Linked DNA regions of Homo sapiens. The protein of the gene in region 1 interacts with the protein of each later gene in a pairwise test. Each region holds a gene or a part of one and is shown on either strand. Other genes may lie near its edges. The genes, in order: TESK1 and SPRY4.

Region 1 (7,255 bases):
CCTGGGCAAAACATGGTGAGACCCTGTCTCTACAAAAAAATTAAAAATTAGCCAGGTGTGATGGCACGTGCTTGTAGTCCCAGTTACTTGGGAGGCTGAGATGAGAGAATCACTTGAGCCCGGGAGGTCAAGGTTGCAGTGAGCTTTGTGCCACTGCACTCCAGCCTGAAAAAGAGTGAGACCCGTCTCAAAAAGAAAAAAAAGATAACTAGCAATAATTGAGTATATCACATATGTGTTAAATTATGAGTTCATAATGGTACTTTAAAAAAAACCTCATCGGTCAACTTTGGAAGATGCTGGGGAACCAACTCATTACTTTGAAAGCTGGTAAAATAAGTGAGAAACAATCAAGTATTTATTCTGCCTTTCCTAGGAAATGTATCTCTGTGTAACAAATAGTTAATGTGGAAAAGTTTCTCCTTATAGAATTATTCTACCTAATACTTCTATAGGAATTCATTCAAAGAAGGAATGATAATATTATTTTCTAACTTTTTATTTATTTTGAGACAGGGTCTTGCTATGATGCCCAGGCTGGACTCGAACTCCTGGGCTCAAGCAACCCTCTCGGCTCAACTTCCCATGTAGTTGGGACTATAGTCGCGTGCCACCATGCCCAGCTTTAACTCCTCTATTAATGAACCTAGACCAGTGGTTCTTATTCAGGGTCAATTTTGTCCCCCAGAGGACAAATGGCAATGTCTAGACACATTTTTTTATTGTTACAGTCAGGAGGAGGTGCTACTGGCATCCATTAGGTAGAGGCCAGAGATGCTGCTAAGCATCCTACAATACACAGGACAGCCCCTACAATAAAGAATTTTCCAGCCCAAAATGTCAATAGTGCCACGGTTGAGAAACAAATATCAGTTATTAAAATCACAAAAAGACCACCACTGTATACCTCCTGTATACCTCCTGATAGAAGTGCTAAAACCATCTACAAATTAGTTTTGCCAAAAGAAATCTAAATTTGATTAAGTTACCAATTTATATCAAATACAGAGGATGGAGGAACATGCTAAATTACCACAGAAATCAAGACTCTAAGAAACTCTACAGGACAAATGAACCAGTTTTAAAAAATAGTAAGAAAAAAGATGGAGAATAAGCATAGATCTGCAAAGACTTAAGAAACATATGGCTGGGTGTGGTGGCTCACACCTATAATCCCAGCACTTTGGGAGGCCAAGGCGAATGGAATGCTTGAGCCCAGGAGTTGAGACCAGCCTGGGCAACGTGGCAAACCCCATCTCTACAAAAATACAAAAATTAGACAGGTGTGGTGGTACCCACACCTCAGTAGTCCCAGCCACTCAGAAGGCTGAGGCAGGATTGCTTGAGCCTCGGGGGTGGAGGTTGCTGTGAGCCGAGATCAACCCACTGCACTCCATCCTGGGTGATAGAGCCAGACCCTGTCTCACAAAAAGAGAGACAGACAGACAGACATATCACCTGCAAAGTACAGACCTAATTTAGATTTTGATTCAAATAAACAATTTTTAAAAATCAAACGTAAGACAGTGAGGGAAATGTAAACAACTGGATGCTTGATGACATGAAGGAACTATTGTTTTTTTTTGGTGTGACAATACTGTGATTTGGTTTTAAAGAAGAATCCTTATCATTTAGAGATAACGTACTGAAACATTTACAGGATGAAATGATATGTCAGAAATATACACAAATATGGAGTGGGGAAGAGGGCACGGGTATAGATGAAACAAGATTGGCCATGAATTGCTCATTGGAGAATCACTGACATAGAAGGGTAAATGAAAGTAGGTACTTTCACCTGGGCCAGGTCAAATATGGCAACAGTACAACTGAGGCAAAGGAAAGCCAATTTTGCACTATGGGTTTCCAACAAAATGGTCTTACTAATCCAAGGTAAATAAACATTCATTTTTCTATTCTGTGTGTGTGTGTTAAGACATTTTCCACCATACAAACAACAACAAAAGGTTTTTTTGAGACAGAGTCCCGCTCTTGTCGCCTAGACAGGAGTGTAATGGCGCGATCTTGGCTCACTGCAACCTCCGCCTCCCGGGTTCAAGCGATTCACCTGCCTCAGATTCCAGAGTAGCTGGAATTACAGGCGCTCGCCACATCAGGCTAATTTTTTTGTATTTTTAGTAGAGACGGGGTTTCACTACGTTGGCCAGGCTGGTCTCATCCTTTCCTGATTGAACCACAGTCACAGCCTCCTTCCTAATCAGTCTCCCGGCCTCCATACAACCACCGCAATCATCTTACAAAAAATAGGCACCTGGCTCTTTGGCTTGGCATTACCATCACCAACTACTACAGTAATTCTCAAACGTGATAAAGGGCCAGAACCCAGTGTCGGTTAAAAGATCTATGATATTAAACAAAATGAGGCATAAATTCCTAGTGTTTACAGATGTCATACAATAAAAAGCAAATTCACAAATTAGTTGTAGATGTTAACATTAATGTGATGAATGAGCGTGTGCTGAAGACCAAACGCCTCCAGAAAAAAGAACAGGATGCACGTGCCCCGTGCAATTCTGTGAGGTTGGCCTGCCTCCACCGGCTGTGGAAGGATTGCGAATGTCTCCCATTCCTCTCGCTCCAAACTTGTGCAATACCTTCCCTTGTACAGCGCACCAAGACAGCATCTGGCCTTCTCTTGACTCTAAGGCATCATGTATCATTTATGACCGTCTTTATTCTTTTCTCAGTAGCCCTCGACAAGCGAGTAGTATTTCTTGGCTCCAAGTCTCATAAACGTGTAACCAGACTCCATTGGAAGACGGTAACCCCACGCGATACGGACTGTGCTTGTATTAATTCTCTTTTAAGCTTACTACAGAAATATCAATACAGTACTTGAGAATTCCTGCAGGACTCAGCCTCGCTTCCTCGAGGAGCTCTCAGCCTGCCTCCGCACTCGAGACGGCAGCTTTCTCTCCCTCCGCCCACCGTTCCGCCGCTAGGTGGCAGGCGGCTCAACGACGCCCTTTTAAACCGTTTGCCCCGGAGTGGACCGCCGGGATCGCGTGTCACCACCCAACCCTAGCGATGATTGGCTATTTCGCCGAGGCCGGAGGAGGAACCAGCGGCAGAACCGGAAGCGTCTGGTACGGCGAGTGCACGGAGTCCTGAGACTGCGTGCGCACCCAGGCACCGCGCCGACTTAAAGAGGCCAGTTGCAGCCCCTCCTCCGGCCTTAGGGGGCAGACCGTGTTCCTACGTGGAGGGCGGAACCCTCACACTGAGGAGGGCTGGGTCACACTGAGGGGAGGAGTCACCTTGAGAGGAGGGGTCACAATGACTAGTGGATTTCCTCGGAGGTGGGGTCTCACTGCGTGGGAGGAACACAGAGCAAGGGGGTGCAGCACTGAGGGGTTCTGACACACTGACGGTGGCAGTGCCACACTGGGGAAAAGTGCCCCCGAAAGGGAGGTGTCTCACTGAGGAAGGGAGGGGTCTCCGAGGGACAGCGTTCTTTGAGGGGGGTGGGATCTTGCGGAAGGACGGGCTTCCCTGCAGGTGGAGGCTTCTCTCTTAGAGTCTTTTGGGCAAAGTAGTAAGAGGGAGGTCCCGGCTGGGTGGTCACAGGGCGGAGGACCTGGACTCTCTTCTTTATTGGGAGGCGGCAGGATGAAGTGAGGAGGAGTCGGGGCTAAGCTGGGTATGGGCCGGCCAAAGGCTTCCTATAGCCCCGGGGTATCACAACCTCCCGTGAAGGTAGAAGGTGTTAGGGAGGCCAGAGGTTCAAGGTGTCGGAGTCGAAGAGACCTGGGAAATGGGCAGGCTGGGCCGGGGCGCAGGCCAGGAAGGTGGACAGGTTGCTAGGCTACCTCTGATTGCGGCTGGGCCTGAGGGGCCTACCTTTCTGCCCCGTTGGTCCCTGGAGCCCAGGAATCCGGCAGGTTTCTGAGCCCGACCCTCAACGGACAGTAACCCAGGGAGGAGAGGGGACTCCCTGGGCAGCTAAGCTTCGCATGCGCACCATCAGCCCTTAATTCCCTCCCGTTATTCAAGCTCAGGCCGGAGCTTATTTGACCCGGGCGGCCCAGGGCATCGCGGCCGGAAAGCGGGGAGGCGGGGGTGCGCACCTGAGGGGGCGTGGCCGCTGCCGGGAGGCCGGGCTGGAAGGAGTTAAGCGGAGGCCCGGCCCAGCCCCGCCCCCGGCAGGCCGCGGAGCCTGATCCCCGGCGGCTAAGCGGAGCAGCCGCCGCCCGCCCGCCCGCCCGCCTCCGCCCGCGGCAAGCCAGCCCGCCGGCGCCCCGGAGCGCTGCCGCCACCGTCACCGCCACCGCCCGGTCCAGGCCCAAGCCCAGGCCCTGCGCGGAGCGGAGCGGCGCGGCGTCCACCCGGGCCCAGCCAGCCGGCGCGGCGGGGGCGGGTCCAGGATCTTCGGCGGATCTTCCATTCTCAGGGCGGGAGCCGGAGTCCGGGCGCCCGGGATCGGGCTGGGCCCGCGCCCATGGCAAGCGCGGCCTGCCCGGGCCCTGGGGACCCTGCCATGTGAGGCAGGCCCGGGCTGGGGGCCCGGCCATGGCCGGGGAACGGCCCCCACTGCGGGGCCCTGGGCCCGGGCCTGGAGAGGTGCCGGGGGAGGGGCCCCCGGGGCCGGGGGGCACGGGCGGAGGCCCGGGCCGGGGCCGCCCCTCCTCCTACCGGGCTCTCCGCAGCGCCGTGTCTAGCCTGGCGCGTGTGGACGATTTTCACTGCGCGGAGAAGATCGGGGCCGGCTTCTTCTCTGAGGTCTACAAGGTAGGACCGGCCGAGAGGGCAGAGGGGCGGGACCGAGCCTTCAACCAGAGGCTGAAACTAGGGGGCCGGGAGTGCGGGGAAGAGGGTCCAGACTCCGGCGACCCGCCCGACCTGCCCGGCCCTCGCCGGCTGCTCCTGCCCCCAGGTTCGGCACCGACAGTCAGGGCAAGTCATGGTGCTGAAGATGAACAAGCTCCCCAGTAACCGGGGCAACACACTACGGGAAGTGCAGCTGATGAACCGGCTCAGGCACCCCAACATCCTAAGGTGAGCGGCCCCAGTCTCTGGGCAGCTTGCTGGGCGGGAGAGAAAGGGAAAGATCCCGCGGGAAAAGTGGAACTGAGGAGGAGCTGAGGCCTTTAATAGCCTATCCTTCTATCTTCCCCATCCTCTTGCAGGTTCATGGGAGTCTGTGTGCACCAGGGACAGCTGCACGCTCTTACAGAGGTGAGGATAGGCCAGGAAGGAGGGATCCCCACCCCCCTTCACCCCCAAGGATAAAGGGAGTCAACAGGCCTGGTGGATCTACGGAGGACTAGTGAGAGGCAACAGGATCTCCTCTCAGGGGAGGCTTTCCTGAACTTTCCTTTAGGCAAACCACATATAAAAGGCCTCAACTGGTCTTATTCTCTGTATCCCCTAGAACAGTGCTGTCCAATAGAATTTTCTTCAGTGACGGAAATGTTCTCTATCTGTGCTGTCCAATACAGTAGCCACTAGCCACATGTGGTTAAATTTAAATTATTTTCATTGTTTAGATTATTTTTTGTGGGTCAACTTGATTAAAAAATTTTTTAAATTATTTAAATTGTTGCACATGGCTAATGGCTATTGAGTTGAACGGGGCAATCCTAGAACATGGATGGGGGGGGTCCTACAGCACAGTCTTACCCCTATGACCTCTGTGATCCTCGGGAGTGTCCCCTAGCGTGTAAGTGGGGGACCTAGAATACAGACTGAAGTCTGACATCTATTCCCATTCTCCTCCTATGCACCAGTATATGAATGGGGGGACATTGGAACAGCTGCTCAGCTCCCCTGAACCCCTGTCCTGGCCGGTCAGGCTCCACCTGGCCCTGGACATTGCCCGAGGCCTGCGGTACCTGCACTCCAAAGGTGTATTTCACCGCGACCTCACATCCAAGGTAGGCTAGCAGGGTGGGTGGAGACATGAAAGAGGGTTTGAGGCTATTAGGTTGTAACTGGCCTGTGGATGTTGGAATATGGATAACAGATATATTAGGATGTTGGAGTGGCAAGGCATTGGAGAATATTGGGGGACCAGGGTGAGGGGAGTGCTCGGAGGGACTGAGTAGCACCCTGTGTTTGGAGTGTTGGATGATGTTGCAATATTGAAGTGCCTTGAAAAACTGGGAGAGCAGAGAGGGTTGGAGTTATGCTGGAGTGACAGGGCTTTGGGTTATACATTGGGAGGCCAGACAGCAGAAGGTGATGAGTGCGTGGGGATACTATGTGTGTGTGTGTCAGAACTGTCTAGTCCGACGGGAAGATCGAGGCTTCACCGCTGTCGTGGGTGACTTCGGGCTGGCCGAAAAGATTCCTGTGTATAGGTGAGATGAATGTCCCTGTTCCCCCCAAATCTCCCAGAGTGCCCCTATCTGATGTCCCCAGAGCCCCAGGGATGTTTCCCTTGGGGAACGGAGGGAGTTCACCTCATCCCCTTTTGCCTGGGGGGGATGCCTGAATAGGATGCTTCTGACCACTCTGCCCCTGCCCCTGCAGGGAGGGGGCAAGGAAGGAGCCATTGGCCGTGGTGGGCTCCCCATACTGGATGGCTCCAGAGGTGTTACGGGGTGAGCTGTATGATGAGAAGGTGAGACATCAACCCTTCAGATCCCCAAGGCCTTCCGAGACCCTTGAGGTATTCTCATAAAGCCCCATCCATCCCCAAAACAACCCTACCAGATCTTCAGGAGTCCCCAAGATCCCTTTGCCCCTCACAGGCACCCTTCTAACACATGAAAACTGTCAAGATCCCCCACCCTCAACCAAATTCTGCTATATTCTGTCAAAATTCTGAAATGAAAACTGTTAATTCTTCCCCGACACTATTATCTCTGACCCCCAGGCTGATGTCTTTGCCTTCGGGATTGTCCTCTGTGAGCTCATCGCCCGAGTACCTGCAGACCCTGACTACCTACCACGCACTGAGGTGAATGTTTCTAGGTTTGCAAAGAAAGAATTCCAGACTAGCTGGCTCATAACCAAGGAGGATTCCCTAGAGGTTGAGGTTCTGACTGGGGAGCAGAAGGAGAACCCAAGAAAAGCTGACTTGGAGGTCCCTCCTTCTGTCCCCACAGGACTTTGGCCTGGATGTGCCTGCTTTCCGAACTCTGGTGGGGGATGACTGCCCACTGCCTTTCTTGCTCCTGGCCATCCACTGCTGCAACGTAAGAGCCTCACACTCCTTCCTGCCCCACCCTGCCCCCATCCGTAAGCTGCCATGGCTGCCCTGTGGGACCCAGGTGATGGGAGGAAACTCAGA
Region 2 (5,348 bases), on another chromosome or scaffold:
CCCCCGATCCCACAGAGCGCCCCCTTGACTCCCAACTCAGTCATGGTCCAGCCCCTTCTTGACAGCCGGATGTCCCACAGCCGGCTCCAGCACCCACTCACCATCCTACCCATTGACCAGGTGAAGACCAGCCATGTGGAGAATGACTACATAGACAACCCTAGCCTGGCCCTGACCACCGGCCCAAAGCGGACCCGGGGCGGGGCCCCAGAGCTGGCCCCGACGCCCGCCCGCTGTGACCAGGATGTCACCCACCATTGGATCTCCTTCAGCGGGCGCCCCAGCTCTGTGAGCAGCAGCAGCAGCACATCCTCTGACCAACGGCTCTTAGACCACATGGCACCACCACCCGTGGCTGACCAGGCCTCACCAAGGGCTGTGCGCATCCAGCCCAAGGTGGTCCACTGCCAGCCGCTGGACCTCAAGGGCCCGGCGGTCCCACCCGAGCTGGACAAGCACTTCTTGCTGTGCGAGGCCTGTGGGAAGTGTAAATGCAAGGAGTGTGCATCCCCCCGGACGTTGCCTTCCTGCTGGGTCTGCAACCAGGAGTGCCTGTGCTCAGCCCAGACTCTGGTCAACTATGGCACGTGCATGTGTTTGGTGCAGGGCATCTTCTACCACTGCACGAATGAGGACGATGAGGGCTCCTGCGCTGACCACCCCTGCTCCTGCTCCCGCTCCAACTGCTGCGCCCGCTGGTCCTTCATGGGTGCTCTCTCCGTGGTGCTGCCCTGCCTGCTCTGCTACCTGCCTGCCACCGGCTGCGTGAAGCTGGCCCAGCGTGGCTACGACCGTCTGCGCCGCCCTGGTTGCCGCTGCAAGCACACGAACAGCGTCATCTGCAAAGCAGCCAGCGGGGATGCCAAGACCAGCAGGCCCGACAAGCCTTTCTGACAGTTTGTGTCGAAGCCCCAGTGCTCTGCCTGGAAACCTGGTTCTCTTCTGACATCTAAGAAGACTGCAGCAAGGTCAGAGGTTTTAGCCTCCTGAGGCTGACCTTGCTAGTCTGCCCACTCCCTACCCCCAGCTTCGGAAAATACAGAGACCACCACCACGTACCCTGTATTCCCCAAGGTGATGAAGAAGCACTTTGGGGCTTTTTTTCAGGGTCCTGAAACTTTGTGTCAAACAGACAATGCAGGGGCAGGGTGTGGTTTGGGGGGAAATTTTTCTTTTTCAGAAGACAGAACACAGATGTGGACACATATCCGGAAACTGCAGCTGCTTGAATGCCTTCCCAGCCCCTCCTTCTCCCTCCCTCCCTCCGCCCCCCCCCCCTTCCTCTTTTCCATTGTCTTTGGCTCTCACAGGAGCTAGCTGCCTGGGAGGAATTGTTAACTGAGTACCAGGGTACCTTTAAAGAAGACCCTTGGAGTCTTCTATACCTTCTTCTCCTTCCCCATCTCACTCCACCCCACTTTGTCCCTGATGTCTTGGGGAAGGTGTAGAACACCCTAGCAGTTCCTATTGTATATACTTGGGAGCCACTGAGAACAGAGGACGGCCAGTGAGTCCAAGCCTCGTTCCTCCTTCTGCCTCCCCGGAGCCACAGGATGGATTTAGGAGCCACTGCTCAGTGCACTTCTCCCTTCCAACTGCATCAACTAACTCTCGGGGGTGTTCTGCTCACCACACCGTCCTTCGGTTCTTACTGAGTCACAGACTCGCCTGCCCACTACGTGTCCTGGGTTCTCTCTACTCAGATCCCTTCCAGAAACTTTATATGGGTAGAGGAAGCCAGGGCGGCAAATGCGAGACCAAATATCATTTTGCCAATGAGTCTGAGGCTGTGGTCTCTGGATCCAGTCATTATGTTTTTATAGAATAATTAAACCGGATGCTAACGGTGTTTTAAAAAATAATAATAAAACAACTTGTTTCCTTTTGGCCACCCCCAGGAAGGGCTGATTTCAAAATCTGGGGGCGAGCAACCTCAAGGAACACAATTTCCCTCCCTATCAACAAGAGGATTTTAACAGCAAAGAAGAGAGGCAGCACCTCCCATTGGCAGAATGACCGCTGAGCCAGGCTGGGTTTGGGTTTCTTCTCTTCTGATTCTGCTGCTCACTGTCATAGCCTTTTGTGTATAGTGATGTGTCTGTATCTTTAATGTAAATAGAGAGATGATGAAAAAAGAGTCTATTTTAGTGTTAGGAAGCCCCAGCAGGGGAGTCGGAAGAGCTTGGAAGAGCTGGGGAGAGGGTAGGGGAAAGGTTTTTCCAGGGGCCACTGGGTTTGAGCCCTGCTTCTGTGCACAGCCACACCACCCTCTCCCGACAGCCCTCAAAGACGTAGCAACTCTTTCTCTCAAGGTGCTAAAGGACTCAGAAGGTGCAGCACGTCCAGTGGGTAGGTACTTGTTGCATGCAAAAGCTGTAGTGTATCTGGTCCTTCCTCCCCAGCTTTTGTGTGGGGTTCTTGCTTTGTGTGGTATTTTGTTTTCCCCTCTAATGAGAGGGCATGGCCTGAGTCAGAAGAGCTACCCCAGGTGAAACTGGAAGTGCATGAGGCAGAGCGTCCGTAGCATTTCCAGTTTGTTCTGTATAGGAACAGAGGTGCCTCCGGGAAGGAGGCAGCGAGGTAGGTAGCTATGATAGGCACCTAATGCTTCTCAAGGACTTATTTTTTCCTTCTTGAAGACTAGTAGTAACATCTTATGATTTAGAGTAAGTTGATTGTAACCATAGGTATTTATTGATTGGAGGAAGGGAGGGTCATATTATTTTCGGCTTTATTTATGTAACATTTGCTAGCTTGTAAAAGGCGAATGTGAAATATTGCATCTGCATTTTCCAAGGCTGATTCGTGTAGCTACCCTTGCCACAGTTGTGACGGATGTATGGATGTTCTTGAACATTTCAGAAGGAGTGGTAGAAAAAAACACACATTCAGCCAACCACTTATATGAATTGAATGTATCAGAAGTGTACTGAAGGGACTGGAGATGGTTTTCCTCAGATGAGGGGGCCCCAAAATTGATAGTGCACATCTGCACGCTTTCTGCGAGGCCTCAGAACTTCCCAGGGCCCCTCCCTCAAATTGTCTCCATGGGAAACTTGACCCAGTGGCAAGTTGCACTTTGGTGATCTTGGTGGTCTACACACCCGTTCTGTGGAGAGTCGATTTACATAAGCTGTGTATACACACACACACACACACACACACACCCCTACCCCACACTGACTGTCTACCGACAAAGACCCTATTTCCTGGCAAACGGCCTCCTGAACCCTGACTTTTTGTGTACATACTTGTAAACACGGATTTTTCTGGGTTTTGGTTTGCTTTTTCCTTTTTTCCCCCTGCCCCTGTTCTAGCTTGTTCTTCTTGGTTTGCTTTCAACCTGCTTGATGGATGTCTGCAGAGTGCTCTCTAAGAGTCCACCTCAGTGCCTCGTGTGCTCAGTGGTCATGGGAAAGGAGCGAAGGAACCATCCTTGGTTCTCCCAGCTTGGTTGTGTAGCAATCCCTCAGCATTGTTTTTCTCAGCTTCTTGGCAAAAATTAAAACAACAACAACAACAACAACAACAACAACAAACAGAAGGATAAACTGGCTTGCCTGTGGACCCTCCCCGGCTCTGGGGCCAGTCGAGAGCCACTGAGGGACCCAGCACTCAGAGACACAACACACATGTGTAGCTGCTTCTGGCTGAGTGTGTTTCCTGTCACCAATGGCCTGTTTGGCTGGACGATGCCTCGGCTTGACCTTTTTTGAAAAGTGCTGGTTAGTTCCCGCCCCTGGTAAACCTGGGGTAGGTGGGGGTTCTGTCTTAACTCGAGGGGCACCTGGGATCCAGGACGCTTCTAGGGGGCTCTGGCTGCCCGTGTTAATGAAGGACAGCGCTTCCGCGAGCACCCTGGGAACTGGGTCTTGGGTAGCAAAGCCCTCCCAGAGAAAAGATTGGGCACAACTAAGGCTTTCCTGAGCAGGAAGGGGGTGAAGACCAATCCCTTCCTTTGGTCCTTTGGTACGCACCCCCTCAGAGCTGAGATGGAAGACATGGCTAGTTCTTTTCAGCCTTGTGGAGCCTGTCAGTCGCCATCATACCTCGAGTGAGGCCCAGCTAGATAATGACTTGTCCAAGATGGCACACGTGGAAAGTTGATCTGCACCAGAACCCGGATGACTGTCACCTTGAAGCATCCTGTTCTCCTTCTGTGCTGTCCCAGGAAGTGTCTGGCGGGCGTGGGCAGCACAGCTCTACACTGTACGATTCACTAGGGCATCCTGCGAGCCTCACTAGCCTTCTGGTTCATGCCTTTGACAAGCATTTTTGTGCCCCCTCTGCTTACTGTGACAGTCGATGATGAATCTTGCGTTGCCATTTTCTGCTGTGGGTAACTGCGTGCAGTGTCTTGCCTTGCTTTCTCTTCTTACTGTCCCACAGCTTGGTTTCATGTTACAAACAGAAAAGCTCGAGGCTCCCACCCCGCCACATCCCAACTTCATTTCCCCCTCACTGTAGCCCATTTCCACCCCACCACAAAGTTGCCACAGGTTTTCTTTGTATAGAATATTTATTTTGAAGCTCTATTTTAATAGTATTTATTTTAGAAAGTCTACTATTGTAAGAGTTCTTCTGTTTGTGAAGAAAAAAACAAGTTAAAAACTGAATGTACTGATTTAGAAAATATATATAAATATATATTGTTAAATATACACGGGACTGCCGTTTCTGGTGTGTTTGTGTGTTTACTTCCCTGACCTCTTCAGCCAGCAAGGCCTCAAGTTTGAGAATAAGCAGCCACTGAAAGGGGAAGAGAAGATAGGGCTTCCTGGGCTGGGCAATCCCTTCTCCCAGCTCTAGGACGACCGTAGAACCATCGGAGGAAAGCTGCTCTTCATTATGAAGCGGAATACTGCAAGGAGCTGCTAGAGCCTCCTTCCTGGGAAAGCTGTCCCCTAAACTGGAGTGTGCTGCAGATGGACAGCAAAGCTCCAAAACTGGGAAGAGGTAGAGGGGGAAAAGTGTCATCTGACCTGTCCATTCCTCTCCCTTTATGTCCCGATTGCCCCCAAAGCAGGTTTTCACACACATGAACACACAACATACATGCTTCAAGGAACTAAATAGAAAAGCCCTTGGTCATTTCCGTATTTTCACAGGATTGGTGCATATTGCACAAAACTAGTCCTTTTAGCCTCGAAAGCCTTCCATCCATTTCATGACCTTCTAATGTACCTTCCTTCTGTTTTTTGTTTTGTTTTGTTTGAGACAGCATCCCAGGCTGGAGTGCAGTGGAGCGATCTCACTCACTGCAACCTCCACCTCCTGTGTTCAAGCGATTCTCCTGTTTCGGCCTACTGAGTAGCTGGGATTATAGGCACGCACCACCATGCCCGGCT

Evidence for each region.
Region 2: the proteins of TESK1 (region 1) and SPRY4 interact in binary tests that used the Homo sapiens proteins (3 or more experiments, as listed by UniProt).

Annotation. Positions count from the first base shown.
Region 1 is NC_000009.12:35,601,090-35,608,344, forward strand, and holds the start of TESK1 (dual specificity testis-specific protein kinase 1), read left to right. Parts: upstream 1-4,172; 5' UTR 4,173-4,530; coding exon 4,531-4,749; intron 4,750-4,894; coding exon 4,895-5,016; intron 5,017-5,147; coding exon 5,148-5,196; intron 5,197-5,747; coding exon 5,748-5,894; intron 5,895-6,237; coding exon 6,238-6,320; intron 6,321-6,492; coding exon 6,493-6,583; intron 6,584-6,838; coding exon 6,839-6,922; intron 6,923-7,004; exon of another isoform or gene 7,005-7,070; coding exon 7,071-7,160; intron 7,161-7,255. UniProt on the Homo sapiens protein: Dual specificity protein kinase activity catalyzing autophosphorylation and phosphorylation of exogenous substrates on both serine/threonine and tyrosine residues.
Region 2 is NC_000005.10:142,309,755-142,315,102, reverse strand, and holds the end of SPRY4 (protein sprouty homolog 4), read left to right. Parts: coding exon 1-894; 3' UTR 895-4,673; downstream 4,674-5,348. UniProt on the Homo sapiens protein: Suppresses the insulin receptor and EGFR-transduced MAPK signaling pathway, but does not inhibit MAPK activation by a constitutively active mutant Ras. Probably impairs the formation of GTP-Ras.